Regions from separate parts of the Homo sapiens genome. Here region 1 is linked to region 2. A link means that fine-mapping ties the variant in region 2 to the expression of a gene that starts in the linked region. Tissue or cell type: whole blood. Region 2 holds a variant in brackets; the other region holds the start of a gene. All regions are shown on one strand. Distances are between the middles of the regions.

Region 1 (9,847 bases), 32 kb before region 2:
GCCAGGCCTACTCTGGGTTCTACCTAAAAGAGGTCTAAGGAAACGGAACAATTGCTTTCTCTATAGAATCTTTGTTGGTTATTCTGAAATACTGTAGCTTTTTGGAGCATAAATGATAACAGCCCAAATGATTCTTTTGACTCAAAACACAGCTGAAAAATACAAGAAACAAAACCATTGACTACAATATTTCTGTGGAAAAAAAAAATCTCTTGACCAGGTGCAGGGGCTCACACCTATAATCCCAGCACTTTGGGAGGCCAAGGTGGGCGGGTCACTTGAGCTCAGGAGTTTGAGACAAGCCTGGGAAACACAGGGAGACCCCATCTCTACAAAAAATTACAAAAAATTAGCTAGGCCTGGTAGCATGCACCTGTGGTCCTAGCTACTCGTGAGGCTGAGGTGAGAGGACTGCTTGAGCCCAGGAGGTGGAGGTTGCAGTGAGCCATGATCATGCCACTGCACTCCAGCATGGGTGATGGAGGGAGAACATGTCTCAAAAAAAAAGAAAAGAAAAAAAAAAGACATTCAGCCGCTTCAAAGTTTCATCAGATAATAATTAGTAATTTTCAAGCACAGATGATCCACAGGAATCAAAGAATCAGGAGGGTGAAAACAATAAGTTACAAAGGCCATTTGCCTCAACACATAAATGAGAAAATAAACAGAGATAAATTAGGAGGCTGCCCCAGTGTAAGTTTTGACTAGAATTTGAGTGTTCTGATTCCCGATCTATACTTCCTGCATCTCTCCTAAATCCACAGCATTAAAGTTAACATTTGTAACAATAACTCAAAGAATTTTTATTTCTAAAGAGATTCAGCACAATTTCCACATTTATAAATACCACAGCAAAACACATTTTTGAAAAAGTGAAGTTGGAAGAAGCATTTATTATAGTTCCTGAGAATGGCTTACTGAATCTAAACAAGCATTAAATCAAGAAAATTCATCAAACAGATGACAATGCTATATTATTAATAAATAACATTTTGTTCTTTGTGATCAAGTTAACATAATATAATGGTATACAATTTTTATTCTAAGAGAATCAGCCCAGTTGGGGGAAAAAAAAAAACCCACATACTTTACTCTGTCAATCAATTGGTCGCTACAGTGGTCCTGGTCCTTACCCGGAGTTAAGTATGGTATAAAGGCTATGCTAAAAACCACCAAGCTTTGAGATCTTCACAGACTCAGCCAAAAGTCATTGACCTTAGGCTGCCCCATTTTTTACCAACCATGCTGGGCTTCCATATTGCTGTCCATATGCTGTCATAAAGTGACATGTTCTGGCTACCAATGCCTCCACTATCCACACCACAACAGCCGGGATGAAAATAAAAAGAAAGGACTGTTTAACTGGGCAAAGCCCATTTCAGTCAATTCTTTGATGTTTCTCTTAGTAGAGAGAAATACCTAAGACTGAGAAGAAGGCATTCAAATTCACGATTTTAGCCTCAACAAGGACATTACTGACTTCACTTAATGTAAAATAAAGACTTGGATAATCGGGTATTTCTTAGGTATGGTCTCAGCTTTGAAATAAATGACAAAGCATACAAAGAGAAGAATCTTGAGAGAATTATTCCTATTACAAAAGCATTTCATTCTACAAAGGGATTCACAACAGGCTTTTAAAATCATCGTATACATTATAGAATACTGCAAAAGAAAAGGATGTATATACAAAATGCTAGAAGGCCATTGAATGTGAGTTGTAGCAGTGATAATACTGAATGGTTCTGTTTTATTGATTCAGGCCCTTGATGGATGCTACTGAGATGAAGGTCACAGGTTGGATCCCAGAATATGTCATTTAGGTTTGAGAAGAGGAGAAACATGCAGAACTTCTAACTCTAGATACAACTAAATTGTGGATTTTCAGAGAATTGAGAAGGTCTGAATGGTTAAAGACAGAGCTATCATAGGAAGAAACAAAGTAGATAGTCTTCCAAAAGTCAGTAGCATTCTGTGACATATGTGCCATATTGGATTATTATTCTGAACATTAACCATAAACTTTCACTTTCCATACAGGCCATTAAATCTCTTCTACTTAGATCAATGGCCTGAAGGAAACTGACCAACTCACTTTATATCAATATGAGGACATTTGCTGTGACTGACAATTGAAAGCAGCTCACCCCTCTATGTAAACTCTAAGTCGAGTCATGGGATTATGGAAAAAAAGAAAGAAAATAAAAAATGTTTAGAAAGAGGAAAAATGAACTTCCAGTTTTCAACTATCACATTAGTGTTTATCTTTTTAGAGGCAGAGACAATCTAAGTACAAAGCCATCTCCATTCTAACAACTTAATTTTTTTAAACACAGTGAACAGCCTGGAATCAGCATAGAGAAGGAGGATGTCAGGAAAATTCGGCTGTTTGTGCACAGATCATGCTTTTGTTCTCCAACACATAAGACTGCACATCTCTTTCAAATGCATTATCTATCTAAAAGTGAGCCCAGCCAGAATTTATCAGACACAATTTATCATAATTCAGCAATTGTGTGTAGATCCCCTACTATGTGCCAACATAGAGCAAACCTGCTATCCCTGAGTCTGCTTGTTTTTGGAGAGCCTGCAAAACTGTATAGAGTTCATATTTTCTGTAACCAAACATTTGCTCTAGAGGTAACTCTACACCTGCAAACACACCCATTTTTTCACAGCACTGCTGTGACTTTTTTGATCCTTTTTTGTATAGGATCAATGACACATCTGTATTAGATTCCAATAATTTAAACATAGGTCTTAAAGTCTGTTGCTTTGTGCATGTCAATTTCTGCAGGCGAACAGCTGACTTCGTTTTCAAGCAACAATACTGTCCGGTGAAAAATATACCTTCCTGAGACAAAAGATACTTTTTGTCCCCATGAAGCTTTGTTGCCTCGTCCAGCAGCAAATGACTCAAAAGACGCGTTCTGCCACCCTCAACAGTCGTTTTCAGGCAAAGAGGAACAGCAAATGAGGTACCAGCAAAAGCTTAAGAAACAAAACCAAGGTGAGTTGAAGGCGGGGAAGAAAGGCGGAGTGGAAGCGAGAAATGCAATCTAAACTCTACTTTGTGATCTAAGAAATTCAGCCTTTACTGATGAATTGGGCAGAGGAAGGGGAGGGTACAAGAAAGGGGAAGATAATATTTTCTGTTACGAAAAAAAAAGTGTGCTGCTGTCCTGGTTTTCTTTCAGTAGCACCCAGAGAATGCATGGCAGGCACAATCTAGTTTCGCGACGAAAACGAATTCCATGAGAATAACACAAGTTTGTATGTGACACAATGGAGATATCCAACCAAACCGAGGAACTATACAATTGCATGACAATTCCTCAAAATTTTAAGTGCCTTCGAGTACCAAAAAAGAAGTTTATGATTATTCACAGGACAGGGTTATCAGTTTAATATCACCATTTTGCAGGATGTGGACCCGTCCTGTCACATCCTCTTTTAAAGAAACCGCTAATAACCTGAAATGCTATTATCCCCTATTTGCCAGGACTGTGGGCCTGATAGTTTCACGGATAAAAACCAAACAGCGACCAGAAGCCAGGAAGTCCCTGGCGAATTCTTTTGAAGCACAACCCCTACAATCCGTGTGCCGGAGCATAAAGATTGAAGTGTGCGCGGTTCCTCCTCCCTCCGGGCCGCGCGTCCGGAACGTTCCTGGCTGTCAGGTGGGTGGCGCGGGCCCCGGCGGGAAGCCCTGCCTGGCAGCCTTGCGTGGCGCGCCGGCGGAGAGGGGCGAGCCCCGCGGAATGCGGCGGGTCCTGAGCCCGACCACCGCTCACCTTTGTTCGCCTGCCCTTGCCGGGAGGAGAGCAGGGCCCAGGAGGAGGGCAGGGGGCGACCCTAACGCTCCGCGGCTCCTCCCCGGCGCCCGGGAGGAAATCCGTGGCAAGCCAGACCCTTTCTGGCTCCCAGAAAGCCAGCGGGGCAGGGGGGTCAGCAACCCCTCCCCGAACACAAAGGTTGGGAGGCGTGAACGCGAGCGTTGGGGGCGCGGGGGCGTGCGCCAGAGAGCGCGCGAGTGTGTGCGCGCGTGTGTGTGCGCAGGGGGAGGGGAGGAGGGGCTTCAGCCCTTCTTACCTCTCGAAGATGAGCCGCACCATGAAGATACAGAAGGCCAGGGGAAAAGCGAGATAGAGGTCCTCAGCCTGCGGGAAGGTGGCCTCCTCCGTGTTCTTCAGGTCCGCCCAGGTGACATTGTGCGGGAGCCAAAACCTCTCGTTCCAGAACCAGGCTAAGATCCCTGCCATCTTGCTTTGTCCACTCCTGTCCTGCGGCACCCGCAGCCCGCCAAGCTCTCCACCGCGCAGGGCGCCCGGGGATGCGCGCCCGGCTGGCCCCGAGCCTGTGCCGCCGCCGCCGCTGCTCCCGCCCGCCGCCGCCGCCTCCTCCGCGGCCGCTGCTCTCGAAGGCTCGCGGCGAGCCCCGGTTCTCTCCTCCCTCTGGCCGCGCTGGGGAAAGGGGCCGCCTTGCCCGTCACATGGCAGCTCGGGCCGCCCGCCCTGATTGGCTCGTCTTCGCGTCAAACAGCGAGGCACACACGCGGCCAACTCGCCCACACCCGCAGGGCAGGGCGCAGTCGCTGCGCCCTGGGCGCAGGGGCACCGCTCCGGGGAGTGTCGCCCGCCCCTGCTCTCACCGCTCTTTCGCTTTGCGCTTAGGGCGACGACCTAAAGTCGACCCCCCAAATCCGCCCTAGCCCCCTGGCTGGCTCGCACATGCTCAGAATGCTGGCTCCTGCCCCGCTGGGGTTTCAGGGCTCTCAGTCCTCTTCCCGTGCGCCCGGAGGCGGTGGGTCAGCAGGTAGGGGCTGCCGCCAAGCTTCAGAACCAGCCCTGCTCCAGGAGGACAGCAAAAAAAAAAAAAGGGGGGGGGAGGGGGAGGGGTAAAGAGCAAAGGAGGAAGTGGGAGGGAAAGGATCCTCCACTCCCGCGCTTGGAGAGGCAGGGTGAAAAATCAGGAACTGAGGCAGGATGGTTTGGCAAGAGCCTTCTGCCTCTGCCCCACGCCTGCCTTTCCCCAATCTTTGACTTTCCGGTCTTTTATACTGCTGCTTCTCATCAAAGTAGCTCCCCCAGGGAACAAGCCCCCCTATATTGATTTATGAGGTGGTACAAAAAATTAGGCACTTAATTGCTATTTGATTATTAATTGCTACTTGATGACGATGATGATGATGATGATGATGATGATAGCAACTGCAGCGTTCTGTAAAACCACCCCTCTCAACTAACCTCTCTGAAAAGGCTGCTAGACCACATTTTGACCTGGCACATCATGAGAACCTCCACTGTGCTACTCGGCAGGCTCATTATTTCTGCCTTTTGAATCTAAAACCTTTAAGGCATTAGGCCTGTGAGGCCTAACCCAGGCACCTTCCCTCCCGCAATGCATTTCCCCATTGATACAGGAGCCATGTGTGAATTCATTCCATGGCCCATGTATACATGGTTCTGGGGCATTTTTGTTCATTTTTCTCACATTCATTTTCTGCCTGGTGCTGCCAGTAGGCTATACTAAACCTTTCCAGTGGGCATATAACCGCACACACACACACACACACACACACAGAGAGAGGGAGTTTCTTTTACTCTTCCCTCCCCTCTTTCCACTCTATCTCTTGAAAGTGAAACTGAAGAATGGCCTATACTGGTGCTTCCAATTTCTCTCCCCTCATTTTCTTTTGAACTTCCATTTGGACATTTGTCTCCTCTGCTGCATTGAAACTGCCCAAGGTCACCTGTGATCTTCATGCTGCTAAACACAAAGGTCAGTTCTTATCTTAGTCCAGGCTGCTTAGACTAGGTGGCTTAAACAGCAGAATTTATTCCTCACGGTTCTGGAGGCAGGGAAGTCCAAGATCAACATGCAGGCAGATCCAGTGTCTGGCAAGGATCCTCTTCCTGGTTTGAAAACAGCTGTTTTCTTGTGTATCCTCACATGGCAGAGAGCACAGAAAGAGGAAACACAGATTAGTGCCCTATCTTCTTATAAGGGCACTAATCCCATTCATGAAGGTTCTACCCTCATTAGCTAATTACCTCCCAAAGACTCTGTCTCTGAATACTATCACATTGGGAACTAGGATTTCAGCATATGAATTTTGGGGGACACACACATTCAGTTCATAGCAGTTCACAACACCTCTGTCAGTAGCATTTGGCCCAGTTGTCAGGTCGTGTGTCTTAAAACATTCTTGACTTGGCTTCCAGAAACCTCACTCTTCTGGGTTTCTTCCTCCTTCATGGCCATTTCTTCTCAGTCTCCTTCCTGGTTACTCCTCACTTTTCTAACCCCTAGAAGTTATAGTGGCCTAGGAGTCAGTCTTTTTTCCTCTTCACTTTTCTATCTGAATGTATTCATTTGGTGATTTTATCCAGTCTCGTGGCTTTTAATGACATCTGTATGCCCTCCAATGTCATGCTAATAGCTCCCATATTTATATCTCTAGCCATGAACTTTTTCCTGACCTTCTGACTCTTAAATCCACTGGCAATTTAACACCACCACTCAGATGTCTAAAAGCTATCTCATGACCAAACTATTAATCTTCCCCTTGAAATCTCTTCCTCCTGTAGTCTTGGCTCAAGCCAAAAATGTGGAGTCATTTTTTCCCCTTCTCTCTTTCTCTCATACCTCCTTTCCAATCCATCCCAAATCCCATCAGCACCATTTTAAAACCATAATCTCACCATCTCTCACCACCTCCCCTGCTACCATCTTGGTCCAAACAACCAATACTTCTAATTCACATTACTCCAGTAACCTCCCAACTCCCAGTTTCACCCTTTGCCCCTCTACAGTCTATTCTCAGCCAGTGTGATCCTATGCAAATTTGTCAGATCACCCCTGGGGTGAAAACCCTGCTTCTTCCTCATCCCTCCCAAGTGAAAGCCAAATTATTCCAATGACCTGTGATATTTGGTTCCGTATTAACTCTGACTTATTTACTCTTCTCTCTCCTTCACTCTGCCTGAGTCCACACTGGCCACCCTGCCCTTACTGGGACACACCAGCTATGTCTTAGAGCCTTTGTGCTTGCTCTTCTCTGTCCCTGGAACTCTTTTTACACGAACATCCATGTTTGCTCTGTACTGATGTCATTTTCTCCCTGAAGCCTTCCCTGGCCACCCTAGTTAATCTACATCCCTCAATCCCCACCACCACTCTTCCTATCTTGCTTTGTTTTTCTCCAAGACACTTACCACCGTCAACACAAGATATATTGTACCTATATCTTCATCAATCATCCACACAGACATGCACTAAAATGTAAGCTTCAGAAAGTTAAAAGATTTGTATTTATTTTATCAACTGTTCTATTCCTAGCACTTAAAAAAAAAAACTGCCCGGCACATTGTAGATACTCAATAAACTACTGAATAAATGAATCAACATTACTCCAACCCCAAAAAGTCTTCTCAAGGAGAAGAAAAAAAATCTGAATAATTGTGTTAAATATTTATATATCCATGTTAGACTCGTGTGTAGAATAGTGTGGGCATAAAGAAGGAATTGGTCAATTCTGGGGTGAGGGAGGTGAGGTGTCATTGAAGTGAGTCTTCATTTGGGAGTAGAAGTCGCCATCACCACTCTAGACCATGTGGTGAGCTTCTCAGTAACACTGGAACATGCCTTGGCACCAGCTGCATTCTCGTAGGCCATAGACAGAGGTTTGTTAAGACCTCTCACCAACTTTGTGTCCGAAAGTCATGTCATGACATGTCATGACATGTCAGAGCCTGGCCTTCTGGGCCAGCCAGACTTCTTCTGTGACTACCCCTGGTTTCTCATGTCACTCCTTCCTGTATGACCTGATAGTACCTTGCTTCCTACTCCATGGCTTCTGTGCTCTCCAGCAGCTCCTTCTATGTCCCCAAGCATGTATAATACTGTTGGTGAGTTAATGCCCTGGGATCTGACTTTGATCATGGGCAATGAAGACAGTAAGTACATTTTTATTCCTTTCCTCCCCACCCCTCGGACACACACAATGGCTTCAAACAGCCTCTCTGAAAATACCCCCTGCTACAAACCCATCATTTTATTTCAAGATTGTGACCCACTCAGTAACTCACCCCCTGATATAAACTCATCATTTTATTTCAAGATTGTGACCCACTCAGTAATTCACCCCCTTATATTTCCTCTCCTCTTTCTCATCTCACTCTCCTTTTCTCTCATTCCTGCTTCCCTGAAACTACACTTCCCTGGAACTTAGAAGCTAAACTAATAGGAGCTAAACTAAGATAATGTGGCTCTCCCATTCATCAACTTTGAGAAGGTGGTGGGATTTCAGGAACATTTTGAAGGGTGAGTTTTGTTGGACAGTAAAAGGAGGATTTAGTACTTTCTATGAATCTTCCATAAGTTCCTTTGTTTCTAAGAGCGTGTTAATACCCTCCTGTGTGATTTGTGCATCAACAGTACCTGTCTTGCCTCTGTCACTGACTGTCATGAGGCTCACATAAGATAACATATGAGAAAGGGCTTGTAAACTATTCTTCTCTATACCCATGTACAGTTCAGCAAACACCTACTCCTCATCTGTCTAGTAGAACTCCTCCAGCCAATGCCCCTTCCTACCACTTTGCATCTAAACGTTTACCCCAGAAACATATTAGAGTAAACTATCATTCCAAATATGATCACATTTTATTGATCCAGGGATGGACAATTGGCCTAACATGGCAATAAAAGCCTTACTCCGGTGTTGTGAGTCGGGTCAAGACTGTCTTTCTCTGGATGCTTAGATTCAAGGATTCCAACTCAGAAGCTGTTGGCCCCCTTGCTTCATTACACAGCTAGAAAAAGCAGAAGCTAGTCTACAACAAGAGAAAAAAAATAAAGCAGACCTGTAGAGTTAAGACCTGCAGAGTTAAAGGTAAGAGACACACAGGGAGTCCTGTTGGCATTGGAGCTCCAGGTTCCATTTAATACCTAGGGGCCAACTACCTTCTCATCCTTAGGTTCTGTGAAACAGCCTCATAGCTTGATAAATTCTGCTTTTGGGTTGAGTTGCTGCTATTTCAGTTTGCAAAAAAATCCCACTATCCAAGACATTACTCTAAGAGCACATGTCTTTTTTTTTAAGAGATGGGGTCTCACTATGTTGCCTAGGCTGGAGTGCAGTCCCACTACTGATGAGCATGGGAGCTTTGACCTGATCAGTTTCCAGTCTGGGTCAGTTCACCCCTCCTTAGGCAACCTGGTAATCCCCTGCTCCTGGGAGGTCACCATATTGATTCTGAACTTAGTGCAGACACCCATTTGGCATAGTGCACTATAGCCCAGAACTCCTGGGCTCAGGCAGTCCTCCTGCCTCAGCCTCCTTCCCAAATAGCTGGACCACAGGTGCATACCACTGTGCACAGCAAGAGTACATGTCTTTAACGCTATCCTGAGCTCAGCTGAGGCCCCAGGGAAGTTAGTCACAGGAGGGGGATAGCACAGCATACCTCTCAAGAAAGCTACTTTGTAAATGTACAGGAAAGACTTCTAATTGGTGCCCCAGGAAACCAAAATACAATTTATGCATCAGACTAATATGTAGCCCAGTGAGAAAGTAAGTAGCTGGTCGGTAAAGGGACAAGGCAAGAGAAAAGGGGAGAAAAAAAAATGTGTTCAGGGGAAGTGACACCAGTTACACTGCATATTAGGAAAGCATGCTTTGTTTTCTGAATAGAAAACATCACCTGAGAATACACCCTGATTTCCAAGCAACTGGAAAATATCAACAAAGCTGAGCTTTATCTCTCATTCTCAGGTCCACACCCAGGTCTTAATTTGAGTTCACATTGTAAGCAGTCTCCACTTTTTTTTGTTTGTTTTGTTT
Region 2 (10,242 bases):
TAACATGTACCAGACTCCTTATTTAATGCTTTCACCAGGATATTTAATTTCATCTTAAAATTATCCTTTAAATACAAAGACATAGGATCTGAGAGAGTAAGTAATTTGCCCAATGGCACCCAGTTAGGAAGTGGTGGGATAGGGGTTCTAACTCAGTTCTGCCTAATCTAATTCCTGATTGTTTCTCCCAATCAGAATGCAGTCTGAAATGATGCTCTTTTTTAGCGCTGTGCTAGCAGGAAGGTCTGTGAAGTTTGCAATAAAGCCATTATGAAGTCAAGAATGGAGGTTCCATTTTTAAAGAACTCAGAGGGGGTAGATCTTGATTGACATCTCATCTGGGGTCACCTGGTCTTCAACTGAGAGATCTTTTGGTTCGCCACGGATGCCCCTTGCAGTTATGGAAGGTAAGTATAGTCTTTAAGCCATTTTTGCTTGGTTGTCCCAACAACCCTGCCTTGAAGTGATATAAACTACCTTCCTTGGAACAACCTTGGTGGTACCAGGTACTCAGGTGCTGCCTATTTGGTGCACCCTTGTGCAGTAAAGTTACACCTGAAGGAATCTACTGCACTCTTGCCTCATCTTCTGAACCAAGGGCTCCAAGTCCTCTAGAGTAGTAAGACAAACCAACATCCGTGGACTAGAGGTTATGATGGAGAAACAAGGGTAAGTGGAGTCCAATAATAACAAGCTATTTTTGTGTCCGCTTCATCCTCACCCCACCAAAGCTTGAGCAGAAACTTTATGATGTGGTCCATTCAGTTTAACCTCTAACATTTGCTTTCCCTTTTTTTTTTCTCTAGTTCACTCTTTGAGAGAGAGATAAATAAACATTAAAATGTAAAGAAAAAAAAAATCAGCAATGGAAGGAAAAAGGAACAAAAAGCAATCCATTGGCGTCAAGCTTGACTGGACCACTCCACTGCTCTGCTGCCGTTAGTGAACCTGACCCTGCAGCAGGAGTCACAGACTCACCACTCACCTCAAGTCCTCACTCCCTGGACCCTCAATCTACACATCACTTTGTCTTTTATTTCCCTGAGAAATACAGGCCATCAGTTTGCAGATCCCTCCTTTCCCCTTACCCTGCAAATCTCCATCTATTTGGAAAAGTGTGCCTCCTACATTCCAAAGCTAACCCCTCCTCCTCTGCCACTAATATCAGCCCTACCTGCCTTCTTCTGTAACTTGCTCCATTAATTCCCTCCCCTCTCCCCCAGGTCTCCCTGCCTATGAACATATTCAAGGACATCATATCTTAAAAACAAACAAATATCAGGCACAATGGCTCACACCTGTAATCCCAGCACTTTGAGAGGTCAAGGCAGGAGAATCACTTGAATCCAGGGGTTCAAGACCAGCCTGGGAAACATAGGGAGACCCTATCTCTACAAAAAATATTTTTTAAAAAAATTAGCCAGGTGTGGTGGTGTGCACCTGTAGTCCCAACTACTCAGAAGGCTGGGGTGGGAGAAATATTTCAGCCCAGGACGTCACTGTGCACAATTGCTTTACTTTTTTTTCCCTTGGTATAGACTTGTTGAAGAGTAAGCCTTCATGTACTGTTTCCTCACTTTACATTCACTCTCAACTGGAGACAATATAGAGTCTTCGCAGATGCAGCTTTCTCCAGACCAACAATGTGGTTAGACATCTGGTTTTTCATTGTTGTTGTTTGATTTCTCTGACTAGCTTCCCTGACCAGAGGTCGTTTTGAGTTTCCTTCTCTGGAATTTGACCACTGAGCAGAGACACATAGGAGAGAAGACGTGAATGCTGAGTCATCAATCAGCATCACTGGGAAGAAAAAGCCTCTCAGTTTCTTCTGCTGGGACTCCCAGAGCTGGAGTATTTTCTGCTCTTCCTAAGGCCTGGTAATTCAGCTCTTTGTGAGACTGTGAGCTTTACCATACCCTTCCAGTAGCAACCTTCTTCTTTTTTAAGTTCATTGCGGGGAATAGGGAGTGATGGCTGATGGACATAGGGTTTCTTTTTGGGGTGACAAAAATCTTCTAAAATTAAGTGGTGGTGATGGTTGCACAATTTTGAATATACTAAAAACCGTGAATTCTAAAGTTTAAACAGGTGAATTCTGTGCTATATAAATTGTATCTCAATGAAATTACTAATATTCTAAAGCCTCCCAAGTGACTTAGATGTTCGGTGAGTGTTGAAAGCCAGTTATTTATCACATCCTTAAGTCCTGCTACCTTTCTCTCACTCTCTAAGTTCAGTTTCCTCTTTGGTTTGACTTGGACCAATCTGCAACAACTCTTGATGTTTCTTGTAAATTCTATGACTAACTCCCAGAGCTTCTCCTGTCTATCTGATACGCATTTAGCTTCTCCTTTCAGGCCTCAAACAGCATGTTTAGAACAGAACTGATCTTCTTCTCCCCAACCTGCTTTACCTTTTCTATTTCTCACTCAGTTACTGGCACAAACTTCTCCATATATGTTTAAGAAGACCTCTACTTTGACTTTCCCTGCTCCTTCTAACTTACATCCAATTAATCAAAACGTTGTATCAGTTTTATTTCTGAAACAATCTCTCCCATCTTCCTTATCTCTTCATTCCACTGCCAGGTCTGAGTCCACCCTTTACTATTTTCTGTTGGATTAAGGCAAACCTCCTGTAAAGAGCTGCCCTGTCTCCTGCAGTCTCATCCTCCAGTACCCCTTCATGCCTACACTGAAGTCCTCTTCCTAAAACAGGAATAGGGTTAACTCACTCACCTCCCCTAAACCTGTTAGTGGCTCTGCACTGAGTACTGGATCAAGTCTAATGTAATGAGAAGGCCCATTCAATCTGGGCCAAACTTTCCTTCTTAGCCTAGTGTCCTCCTATGCCCCCTGCACAGACCTTAGCTCCAATCACACTAACCCATGCCATTACCTGGACACACTGTGCTAGTCTACACTCACGTGCCCCCAGCTCACATCTCCCCTTTTCCTGGAATGCCATGTCCATATGGCCTGGAGAATGACCTAAAGTTAGTGCCAGCAGAGAGCTTATCAGTAGTGGGGCAGATCACAGGGGAGAGCAGGTTTTGGAGCTAGGGTGAGGTGTCAATGAGAAGAAGGGTGATTTATTAAGAAGTAAGCTCATTTCAAGCCATACACCTGAAACCTGACGCCCAAAGAGGAGGCAGAGACCCAATCAACTACTGATACAGTTTGTGAGGCTGGAGACTTGAGAGAACAATAGGTTGAGGCAAGTGTAACCAATGGATTAATTCCTTACCAATCTAGGATTCCTGGAGCGTGGAGTGCTCCAGGCCTGGTGGCACCAAGACTTTAAAAAGAAAAACCATTACACAGTGAGATTTGGTCTCTACACAAAATTTAAAAATTAGTGTGGTGTGGTCGCACACAACTGTAGTAACAGCTACTCAGGAGGCTGAGGTGGGAGGATCGCTTGAGCCCAGGAGTTTGAGGCTTCTAGGAGTTTGAGGCTTGCTATGTTGCTCAGGCTGACCTCCAGCTCCCGGGCTCAAGAGATTCTCCCGCCTCAGCCTCCTGTGTTGTTGGGACTACAGGCACGCACCACCATGCCCTGCTGGTTAGCTGTTTTTAAAAATTATTTTTAAAGCATCATTAAATTTCTCATACTGAAAAAAATGGCCTGGATACTTTAAGAAGAATAAGACAGATTTGAGCATTCAGCAATCATAGCTGAACTTCCTAAGAGACTATAGCAAGCTGGTTACTAGGGAAATTGTTTTTTTCCTTACTGAAAAAAAATCCGGTGTTAATATATCATTTTAGATGTGTAATGTTTAGGGGTCCTTATTGTTCAAGGAATATAAAGTAAGAGGGGCCGTCTCTCATTGTATAATATAAAACAAAAAAGAAAAAGTATTGATCTCAGAGAGAAAGTAAATTGTAGCTAAATTAGAGGAAGAAAATCATGCCTCTTATTTATCCTTGACTCCCCACTGACCAGCACAGTGCTCAAGAAATTTATTAAATGAAAAAAGAATCAGAAAAAAAATTAAAGGAAGAAAAAGAGGAAGGAAGAAAGTTAGGAAGGGAGGGAACATATCTTAAAAGAAACTGTAAACCAGTCTGTTCTGGTTTTTTTTTTTCCCCTCCTAGTTGCCAATTGAAGTTTCTTCTTAAAAATAACCCTATGTCAACTGAACTAAGTTAAAACGTGCTAACCTGGGAAAGATAAAAAGAAACATTATGTCTCTATAGGTTCTTTGTGATGAAACAAATCCGCCTCAACCCAGAACACTAGCAAAGCGTGGGGTAAGGCAAATAAGACTTAAAAATTTTGATGATTTGTAGAAAACAGAAGTTCACAGTTCAGCAGTTCCTTCTTGCTTGGGATGATCTTCACAACACCAGCCCCCAAATGGAAGGGTAACTAACTGCTCCAGTTCAGTTGGCTACCTTGTGAGGCTGGCATCCATTCCTAGCAAAAATGGGCAGAAATGGGGAAATGCCTCCCCTTAAGACCATAGCTTTTCACCTTGACCTTCCTCCATTTTATCTACTCCAGAAGGTCTCCACCAAGCTCCCAGCAGCACAGCATGCTCAAAACCTGACATATCCATGGTAACTTTTCACAGCAATGTGATGAAATTTGAGAAACAAACCAGAAATGTAATGTGATCACCCACATCATATCAGCCTCACAGGCAATCAAGAGCTTGGCTTCAATTACAAAATGAACTCCAGAAATCTTCCAACAGTTAGTCAATCCCAGCCTTTCACATGAAAATGTATTTAATTTACATAATACTGTGAAGAAGGTATTGTTATGATCCTCACTTTGCAGCCTATGGAAGTAGGGATTAGTCCTTGATGAAGAGTCAGAAGATGTATGTACTTTCAAAAGTGATTTAATATGGAAACTGGAAAAAAATTATAAAACATGTAATGGAATCCTAAATAGGATACTGATAAGGTTTGGCTCTGTGTCCCCACCAAAGTCTCACCTTGAATTGTAATAATCCCCACGTGTCAAAGGCAGGTCCAGGTGGAGATAATTGAATCATAGGGGTGGTTTTCCCCATACTGTTATGATAGTGAGTTCTCATGAGATCTGATGGTCTTATAAGGGGCTTTCCCCCTTTTGCTCAGCACTTCTCCTTGCTGCTGCTGTGTGAAGAAGGATGTGTTTTCTTCCTCTTCCTCCGTGATTGTAAGTTTCCTGAGGCCTCCTCAGCAATGCTGAACTGTGAGTCAATTAAATCTCTTTCCTTTACAAATTAACCAGTCTTGGGTATGTCTTTATTAGCAGCATAAGAACAGACTAATACAGATACCCAAAGTCATTGGTATTAGGACAAAGGAGCAGAAATTCATAAAGGAAAGACAGAGACACAGAGAGATGGCTGACTTTTTTCTTAATGCCAGGTTTTAGAAATGAAAGTATTTAAGGCTTTGATAATATATATTATCAAATTATATTTCAAAGTGTGGTAATAATCTACAGTCCTTCCCAAAAGTCCTGAAAATGTTTATTTCATTTCATTAGATATGATACATTTAAAAGTCCTTAAACCTTGATACACAAGAATATATACAAATAATTTTGCACTTTCTTCAACATTTTCTTGTATGTGTGATAAATACATTTCCTATTCTGTGTATTATCATTATGGTTTTTATACTTTTCATGTTTTAATATTTTAAATTATTTTATAACAAACGTATTAACCTTTAAAAAGAAGACAAATGTAGACTGTCTTTAATTACATTCTGCATTAGAAACCATAAATATTTTAGCATTCAAATTCATGCAGTCGAGAAGAGTCTTAAAAAATTCTGTAGGTGTTCAAATGAAAATATAAAGAGATTGGAGAAAAATTGATCTCAAGCAAGAGAGAGAATAAAAATCACTCGTAAGAAGTATAGGTGTTCTCATGGCTAAATTTGGCAGTGGTGGTAAAAATGGGAGGTGTAGATAAGAAGATTTCAAATAGAAGAAATAATCAAGAATATATCCTTAAAACGCTGAGTTGAAACATAAAACTGAAATACCATTATATAGGTGATTCTATTATGCAACCAGAGTTGAGAACCACAGATCTCATTGATTTATGCAGTCCTTTCCATCAAGAACCCTCTCTGACTTTAAATTCAATGTATC[A/G]GTACATTGATATTTTATCACATCCACTTCCTTTCTGTCCGTAGTCACCTTGGATGGACAGTTTACACAATAATTTGTAGAAATAATAATAATAAAATAATGTGGAGAAGAGTTTCCACAATAATTTTTGGAATTTAATGATTTTGACATTACACATAGTCTTAATGGTTTGATAGAAACAAATGTGTGACTTGATAAAAGATCAGCTGATCTCATGAATTCTTAAACACAGCTCTTTAAGGAATTTTTCCTTTTATAAGGAATCATCATCTTAGAAAAACATTTAAGCTTTTAATATCATTGGACTTGCTATTATTTTTAGTTTATGAATTTTTTTAAAAAAATTAGAAATGAATTAAAATTAATGGCAGAAATACCTTCAAATACTTTCACACTGACTAATCTGAATGGGGTTAGGGACAGATGACAGCAACTCAAAATGACACAGAGGAAGAAACTTCAGACTTCCTGGGGATTTTCTGGTAAACTCTGACTAAAAACTAACTCCTCTGATTGTGCAGCAATGTTCCCTGCTAACATAGCCTTCCTTTTGGACTACCAGCTTTTTTTTTTTTTTTTTTTTTTGAAACAGAATCTCACCTTGTCACCCAGGCTGGAGTGCAATGGCATAATCTCAGCTCACTGCAACCTCTGTCTCCCAGGCTCAAATGATTCTCCTGCCTCAGCCTCCTGAGTAGCTGGGATTACAGGCGCCCATGGACTACCAGCTTTTTAAGTAGACTTTTTAGCCAAAGGCCAAGGGAAACTACCCTCTTCCTACTGGGGTTCAAATTGATTAAAATGGTTTGCTTTGACTTTTGTTGAAGTCTCTTTATTTTCTTTTTAAGATTATGTTAAATTATAATCCACATTGGCTTTCTTTTTACAGGTAAACTTTTTCTCTTCTAGATTTCTAGACGGCCTTCCCCCACTTCGCTTCTCTCTCTGCCATTTTCCTCCCCTCTCCCGCCTCCCCAAGTTAGAAGAGGCTGACAAAAAGAGGCTCATCAAAGTTAAATGTTGCCAACATAAATTGGTCCCTCTTCTCTTCCTTGATGTGACTGGTCTCTCAACCTATTGATGGCATCCAGTTCCAACTTTCCTCTTCTCATTTGGGACATTGGGAGGAGAGTAGTCTCTATTTTTAATAACAAAGTAGTAAGTATGTAATGCCTCTCTTGACTGTGCAAAAGACCAAAACTGGAGAACATTTTATGCTTTGATTTTCTTTCTCTTTGTTAAAACTTAGATAAATTATCTCTTGGGAATGGAATGTTCCAGGCCTTTCTGTTTCATCCTCTCTTAGTAACAGTGTATCGTTGTGGGTTTACAGGTGAAGAAAATATCATCAAATGACAAATGGCCATAAAGATCTCTCACCCAGATTATCTAATGGTTTTACTTATGCACAGAGACTGTAGGCTCTGACTTTTTAGAGTTTTATAATCCTTTTAATAACACTTTTTTTCATTTATAGAGAACTACAGTCAGGCAGGCAGAGTATTTTCTGATTTGGATGAGTTCATAAGACATGTACATTATGGGAATTATATGATTGCTCCACCTGCATCACATCTGGACCACCTCTGGACTGAGCTGTAGGGATGCAGGGAAACCCTGCTAAGTGTCAAGCTGCACCCTGTCCTGCTGGTGCCCATGCCTAGACCCTCATTCCATTGTTCACAGAATTCTATGCCTTGGGATTTTGTCTCTACTTGTCCAGAACTCCTAATTCCTTCACTCTTCCACATTCTAGGTCCTCCTCTATCAATTTAAGTACCAGATCCCTGTCAGCTGCCTTCCCCAGACATTAAGTCAGAAGCTCAGTTTGATGGCAGGGTGTGTGTTTCCAGGTATGGAAGGGTCATGGGGGAAGCCACCACTCTCTCTGAACATATTCCCACCAAATGGCGATTATTCCAACAATTTCTCAAAGTATATGTTAACATAATGATTTTTAAGACTTAGTAGAAAAGCCCTTAAAGAAGTGAAATATGAGAATGAAACATGGCGATGAGATCATGAATTGAATAGAGAAGGGAGTTGAAAAGTTCAGCCAACCCATCCCTTCTGCACATCCAAAAGTAGGGTTCAGTCTGGGGGACTTTGTGTGCTTGGCTTCACACAAGAAAGAAGTCAAAAGCGATCTGACAGAAAAAAAGCAAGAGGAAGTTGAATGAAATAAAGGAACAAAGGGAAGACTGCTCCATAAGCAAAGTAGGGTTACCCCATAGGCAGAATAGCATTGTGGGCTGCTCACTTGTTATATTTGTGATTATTTCTTGATTATATGCTGAATAAGGGATTGATTATGCATGAGTTTTTTGTAAAAGGGGCAGGGAACTCCCAGAACTGGGGTTTTCTCCCCAGTTTAGACCATTCAGGGTAACTTCTGAGTGTTGCCATGGCAACTGTACACTGTCATGGCACTGATGGGAGCGTTTTTTAGCATGCTAGTGAATTATAATTCATGGATAATGAATAGTGAAGGTCACTTTCACTCCACCTTGGTTCTAGATGGTTTATTTATTTATTTATTTATTTATTTATTTATTTATTTATTGTTGAGACAGAGTCTTGCTCTGTTGCCCAGGCTAGAGTGCAGTGGTGAGATCTTGACTCACTGCAACCTCTACCTCCCAGGTTCAAGCGATTCTTCCGCCTCAACCTCCCAAATAGCTGGGACTACAGGTGTGCACCACCATGCCCAGCTAATTTTTGTATTTTTAATAGAGATGAGGTTTCACCATGTTGGTCAGGCTGGTCTTGAACTCCTGACCTCGTGATCTGCCTGCCTCAGCCTCCCTAAGTGCTGGGATTACAGGTATGAGCCACTGCCCCCGGCCTGGTTTCTTTATTGTTATCCTCTTAGCAGCAGGGGCTTGTGACCTGTTGTTTACTGTCTCCTGTCTTATCAGTGGGGTCATGTGGCCTGTTGTCTTGGAGACTACGACTGCCAATTCCTATCTCAGTTCTGTGGGCTGCCAGGCTCAGTCCAGGGTGGATAGACCAGGGACAAGGGTCTGCTCTGAGCATCTCACCTGCCCGAACTCATGGCATCTTCCTACCCTTCCCTGCTTTACGTCATCCTCTCTGAACTTGCCTCTTCCATCCTGTTGACTTGTGGTATGTGCCATTCCACTACAAATCCAACCAAAGTCACACTCTTGTTCCCCTCAACCTCTTGCCCCACAACTCATAAGACACAGTCATTCCTTTAAACTGGGCTATAGTCTGGTTGGAAACCCCCATGAGCAGAACTTAAAACAAGGAGGGCAGGAGAGATGGCAAAGGAAGACTGTTTGGCCCTGACTTCTTATTCACAAAGAACTCATAGATTTTTAGCCTGATCTTTTATTGCGGCATTACATACAACCACAAAGATAATGACAGGATTAAAAGACAAACATATTCATCATAGAAATTTACATTTTTGTCTTTCATATGTCTACTATGATTTCATATCTTTCATGATTTGTAGCTGATGACTAGCATACTTACTTTATTATAATTTGTATCAAAAGCCTACTGTTAATTGTAAACAATATATAATCATTGTAGGTCTATTTTGCTATTTCATCATTTTTAATATGCTAGAGCCTCAGGAAAAAAAAAAAAGAGGCGGCCCAAATTTCTCTTGTTTTCTGAGTGGCTCTATAATAATATGACAATATATGATGAGCACTATTGCTACTCAGAATTTGAAGTTAGCATGGACTGGCATAACAGAAGATAAATTTCAGGAGAGATGAACTTTAGTCTTTCCCTCTTCTACTGTTATTATGCCTTACCAGAGATTTTCACCTTTTTGGCCTCTTACACAAAAAGAATGTAGTATTTTCTTACCACTGACGTCTTACCTAAGCCTCAAGGGAACTGGCACCTCTGCTTCATTTGCTATTTACTCTCAGCTCACTAATGCATCATGCCCATGCTCTGTTAGCTGGAAGAGTCTGAGGAGTTGCAGGAAGGAGTCTCTCGGGGTAATTTTTCTCTATCCTCTCTCCTACCCACCCTTCCACCCCCACCACAACCAGAATCAAGTCTTTCTAAAAGAACTCAAAGAATTCCCCACAATGAACTTGGCTTTCAGACCCTCTCTTCTGTTTTTCTTTCCATACCTAACCAGTCCTGTTC

The links. PIP is the estimated chance that this variant, and not a neighbour inherited with it, causes the effect.
Region 1: CERS6 starts here. The variant in region 2 is fine-mapped to the expression of CERS6 in whole blood (INTERVAL, PIP 0.91).

The regions. Positions count from the first base shown.
Region 1 is chr2:168,450,864-168,460,710 of GRCh38, reverse strand. It overlaps CERS6 (ceramide synthase 6), which reads right to left and starts at 4,439. Exons shown (of 10, transcript NM_203463.3): 1 at 4,093-4,439. The coding sequence starts at 4,262. It overlaps LOC102724081 (a long non-coding RNA gene), which reads left to right. Exons shown (of 4, transcript XR_002959433.2): 1 at 1-3,680. It also overlaps the pseudogene RN7SL813P. RefSeq lists silencers at 3,748-3,807, 4,258-4,387, 4,508-4,597, 4,628-4,847.
Region 2 is chr2:168,419,109-168,429,350 of GRCh38, reverse strand. LOC105373734 (a long non-coding RNA gene) reads left to right here and starts at 7,596. Exons shown (of 6, transcript XR_923559.3): 1 at 7,596-7,958. It overlaps LOC102724081 (a long non-coding RNA gene), which reads left to right. Exons shown (of 4, transcript XR_002959433.2): 2 at 226-407; 3 at 807-1,877; 4 at 6,698-6,920. The variant A/G (reference allele first, on the strand shown) is at 6,106.